Regions from separate parts of the Homo sapiens genome. Here region 2 is linked to region 1. Evidence: fine-mapped expression QTL. Tissue or cell type: atrial appendage. Region 1 holds a variant in brackets; the other region holds the start of a gene. All regions are shown on one strand. Distances are between the middles of the regions.

Region 1 (2,760 bases):
GAAAAGCTACTCCTGTGTGCTATATGGAGAAAAGATTGGAAGAGGCAGGAGTAAGAGATGGGGAATTGGTCGGAAAGTTGTTACCAAGTCCAGGTGAGAAATGGCAGTGGCTTGGACCAGGCTGTTGGCCGCAGCCATGGAGAGGCTATTAGGGAGTGATAAAGGTGACAGGACGTGCCAGTGGTCAGAGGAGGGTGGTGATAAAACTGGGATACAAAACTTTGTAAGTGTGCACCATTGTTTTAGGATGAGAAGGTGGAACATTTTTTTAGGCTTTTACTAAGTGCTAGACTTGTTTGACAGGTCATAAATATGTACATAGCCCTTTCTCCAGAAATCTCCCTAATAAGAATTTAACCCATGGAAAGAATTCGAAGGCAAGGGAAAAAAAAACCCATTCATGATAAAATATTCTTTTCATTATCTTATCTACCACATTAGAAACTTAATAAAGTATTAATACAAATTATTAAGTATTAATAAAAATACTGAATTTACTATTCTTATAACTATATTTTATAACTATATTTTGATTGTGAAAACTGGCAGAAAAATGCACAAGTGAAATTAATTGCTGTACTAGGGCTGGCAGAATTTAGGATAATTTTATCGGTCAATTTTTACATGCTAAAACATATACTTTAACAATTCTGAAATAATGGACTCTTCTGAAAACATTCCATTTAGGATTGATCAGAATGGCAAGTACTATACTGGAGTCCTTTGTGGTTTGGGGTGGAATCCAGCTACAGGGGCTTCCATACTGCCCGAGCACGACATGGAGCTTGCGTTTGACGTTCAATTCAGCGTGGAGGATGTCGTCGAGGTAAGGGTAGTGCAGCATCACGGCACCACAACCCTGTCTCTCTCTGGTTTTGCTTACCTGACAGTGAGTGCAGGGTCTGCTGTGGAGCTCGCGGTGCAGACACACACCTCTGGTCCTGGAGATGTGCACGTTCCTTGTCCCTCCTGGAGTCACCCTCCAGGAGGACCGCTCCTTAACTTGCCAGTTTGATGTATCTTTCCTGTGAAAAGTAACTTCCTGATGGTGCTCTCTGAGTCTCTCATTTGGTGTCTCCTGGCATAAGCTTTTCTGGGCAATCAGCTAAACCACGGGGCTGTAGGGCTGCTGTGGGTCTCATTCCAAGTCAGGAAGTGGAACATCCTTGCTAGTTCTTACTGGGAAAGGAGGACACAAGGTCCTGCCCCTCTGCCCTTCTCCCGGCCTGGTGACCATGCTGAGCAGAGGGCTGGGTCAGCGTGAGTGCAGAGCTGAGCTGCTTGCAGCATTGTCTGGGCACCGCACTAGCTCTGGGGTGAGGTGGCAAGGCAGACAGGGAAACTGTGTAGCAAGTACACAAAGTATTTGTATGTCATTTGAATCTAATAATAGAAATGTGGGCTCGTATTTGTGTACATTAAAAAAGATCTTTCATC[G/A]TTATAGTAATTTATTTTTATTGCATTTTACAAAGTGGGAAGACCAAAACTGATCCTTTACCACAAATAGTTTGAGAAATGCTACTTTCTAAGTACTCAGTCGCCTTTCTTTCTTAGAAGTTCCATGAGACGGGTGAGGTTAACATAACCACACTGAAGGGCCGGGGGAAAGGAGGAGCTGCAGAGACAGCTGCCGATGCTCCGGGGGCAGGTATCAGTGTTGTCTCTGCAACTGTTAAGTCATAATTGCCTGGTCACAAGAAGGGGCTTATGGGCTTGAAAATACTCCTTAAGCCATAGACCTAATGGGAAAATGTAAAACTATTAAAGTGCTACAAGCAAATTCAGGAAATCTGTGTGACTTTGGGTGTGGCATGAGTTTATAAATACAACACCCAAAGCACAATCTGTGAAGGGGAAATTGATACGTTTGAATTTATCAAAATTAAAAACTTTTGTTCCGCAAAAGACCCTCTTCAGAGGAAGAAAAGACAAAGTGCACACCAGGAGAAAATAGTTACAGGTTACATATCTGATGAAGGACTTGTATCCACAATATGTAAGGCACTCTTAAAACTCAATTATAAGAAAACAAGCAACAGAATTAAAATACGGATGACAGTAAACCCATGAAAAGATGCTCAGCATCATATGTCATTAGGAAAATGCAAATTGAGACTTCCATGAGATAGCACCACCTACTTACTGGAATGGCTGAAATCCAAAACCTGACAGTAACCAGCAATGGCAAGGAGGTGGTGCAGGGGGACCGGGGACCTTTTGTTCATTGCTGGTGGGAATGCAGATTAGTACCACTATTTTAGAAGACAGTTTCATATGAAGTTAAGCCTGCATCTACCATATGACCCAGGAATCCCATCTGTAGGTATTTATTCAAGAGATTTGAAAACTAGCATCCACATAGAGCTTGTATGTGAATATCAATTGCAGCTTGAGTCATAATTGCTAAAAACTGGGAGCAGTCAAGATGCCTTCAGCAGGCGAGTGGATAAACCATACTGATGACAGAGAATACTAACTCTGAATGCTATGAATTCTCTAACGGGATGAAATTCAGTTACGACGGAGCCTTATGAGTGTTTATGTTGCTGTTCATTTACAGGTTAATATTCTCAGGGCTGCTATTAACAAGCTAGTCTGTGATGGACCAAATGGATGCAAGTGTCTTGGGCCAGAGAGAGTTGCGCAGCTTCAAGACATTGCCCGTCAGAAGCTTTTAGGGTAAGCTGTGTGATGACGCGGGCTTCTTTTCTTCCCAGTCAACTTTCTCAGCTGCCTTGATCATGGCTGTTTTGAATTGTG
Region 2 (2,629 bases), 110 kb before region 1:
GCCTGGGCAACACAGCGAAACCCCTGTCTGTACTAAAAATATAAAAAATTAGCCGGTGTGGTGGTGGCGTGAGCCTGTAGTTCCAGCTATGCAGGAGGTTGTGGTGGGAGCATCACCTGAGCCCCCGAAGTTGAGGCTGCAGTGAGCCCTGATTGCAGCACGGCACTCCAGCCTCAGCGACAGGAGTGAGACCCTGCCTCAAAAGAAAAAAGAAAAGCAAGTTATTTCTTCCTGGCAAAGTGTGTTGAGGCACTTTTGGGAACCTGTCGTATTTGGCAGAGTCCTAATATGAGGTCTAGAGCTCATTATGCCAGGATTTGGAGCCAGAACTCCTGGCTTAGTATGATTATGGGTTCAATTTTTGAGACACCAATAGCTCAACCTACCTGCCTGATTTCTGTCTACAGTGTTTTCAAACCGCCCTCTTATTTGCCACTGCTTGGGCTTTACACTGCTGATTAGAGCCATGCTCTCGATACCGTCTCTGTATTTGTTCACATGGCTCTTTCCTGAGAGCCCACATGGGCCAGATAGATCCTGCCCTGGCCAGTGAGGGGGACACACCCCAGGCAGGTGGCCATGTCTCTCTTCTGACCCTCCCTTCCCTTGCACACGTGGCTGCCTTCCCGTGCATCCTTTGTTGATTTCTTCCCGCGGCTCCTTCTTTTGGGGAGTTTGCTAGGGCTCTGTTCTCCACCCTCACTCTTCTAGAGCTCGGCCGGGACCACCTCAGCCTGTATCTTTGGTCCATGTGATCGCCTGGACCTCCTGTCCGCACCTGTTTGTGTCCAGCTGTGAGTCTGACACCGCCGCCTGAGACACCGGTTTAGGAAGGAAGATGAATTCAGTTATGATCCGGCTGCAAAGAACTTCTCCCAGATCCTCACCTCAGCCATCAGGGCCGCCTGCCCTCCCCTATAACCCTGGGTGGTCCTCCGTCTGGCGCATTCCCCCGTATCCTGCAGGGGTCTGCCTGGCGTTACTTTCTCCGAGACCTTCCTGACCTTCTTCTTGCCCCTCTCCCCCCATATTAGGTGCAAGGATGTCCTGGTACGTCTGACCCACGAACGCAAATCCCTTCTCTGGTTTGCCTTCCATCTCCTCACCCTGAGGTGCTCAAGAAACGTATGTAGGGTCCCGGTCCGCTCAAAGCGCACAAACCTCCGAGGCAGCAGCCTCTAAATAGAGAGGCCAGGGAGTGACCGGAGGGCATTTTCTTGTACACACAGGGGTTGCCACGGAACTCCCGTGAAACAGACTCCCGGGCCAGCCGCGGCGCTCAAGCTTCCCCTGAGGTCCTAGAAAGGCTCACCCTGGGCTCGCTCGGGGCGGCGGCTCCCGGCAGGCCTAGCGCGGCGGGGCGGGGCCGGCGGCACGAGGACCAGGCAGCGCGGGCAGCACGCGCCCGGGCCGGAGCCCGCCCACAAGGGCGCGCGGCGCGTTCTGATTGGAAGGCCTCGAGCGGGGGCGGGGCTTCCAGGGTGCGCTTCCGCCGTCGCCTGTTCCCGCCGCGGAGACCCGGCAGTTGGGGGATGCCGACGCCTGGGCCTTGAGGATGCTGCGGAAGCTCACCATCGAGCAGATCAACGACTGGTTCACCATCGGCAAGACGGTGACCAATGTGGAGCTGCTGGGCGCGCCGCCCGCCTTCCCGGCAGGGGCGGCCAGGGAGGAGGTGCAGCGCCAGGACGTGGCCCCCGGCGCTGGTCCCGCGGCCCAGGCTCCGGCTCTGGCCCAAGCTCCGGCCCGGCCGGCCGCTGCGTTCGAAAGGTAGGACGCGGGCGGGGCGGAGGCGGCTGGAGGGCGGCCGGGCGAGGCCTGGCGACGAGGGCACGGGCCATCCAGATCCTTCTCGCGAGCCCGTGCCCTCTCGCGGGGCTCCAGGGACCCCTGACCGTCCAGGGCGAGTGGTCACTACACAACCCGACGCGCGGCCCAGAGCGGTGCCTGTAAGGAAGCTGAGCTAGAGGTTTTTTTTTTTTTTTTTTTTTCAGTTCTTAATGTTTAACAGACTAGTTTTTGAGGCACTCAGGTTTTCAGGATAACGGAGCGGAGGGCAGAGGTCCCATAGGCCCCTTCCCTCCCAGAGTTTCCCCTGTGAGCATCTGCGTAAGGTGTGGGTATTTGTGACAGTCGGCGAACCTGCATCGCTGCGTCTTCGTCACCCGGAGGCCATCGTTACAGGAGGGTTCACGCCTCGTACTGGACGTTCTGTGGGTTTGGACAAACGCCTAACGTCACGCATTACAGAGTTCACTGACCTACAGATCTTCTCGGCCCCACTGTTCCTGCCTCCCTTTCCCTACACCACGTGGAAACCACTGATTTTTTTACTGTCTCCATAATTTTGCTTTTCCATACTGTCATCTAGTTGGAATCACACAGTATGTGTAGCCTTTTTGATGGGTTTCTGTCACTTAGTATTAGTATGCATTTGGGGGTTCCTCCATGCCTTTCCATGGTTTGATAGCTTCTTTCCTTTTAGCACTGATTAATATTCCACTGTCTGGATGTACCACAGTTTATCTCCATTCACCTACTGAAGGAGAGCTTGGTTGCTTCCAAGTTCTCCCCCCACCCCCCGAGATGGAGTCTCACTTTGTTACCCAGGCTGGAGTGGAGTGGCGCC

What was found. PIP is the estimated chance that this variant, and not a neighbour inherited with it, causes the effect.
Region 2: TDRD9 starts here. The variant in region 1 is fine-mapped to the expression of TDRD9 in atrial appendage (GTEx, PIP above 0.99).

Annotation. Positions count from the first base shown.
Region 1 is chr14:104,039,509-104,042,268 of GRCh38, forward strand. TDRD9 (tudor domain containing 9) reads left to right here. Exons shown (of 36, transcript NM_153046.3): 33 at 688-826; 34 at 2,561-2,679. Among named protein-coding and RNA genes, the nearest start is that of ASPG, 45 kb to the right of the region's middle. The variant G/A (reference allele first, on the strand shown) is at 1,438.
Region 2 is chr14:103,926,955-103,929,583 of GRCh38, forward strand. TDRD9 (tudor domain containing 9) reads left to right here and starts at 1,502. Exons shown (of 36, transcript NM_153046.3): 1 at 1,502-1,770. The coding sequence starts at 1,556.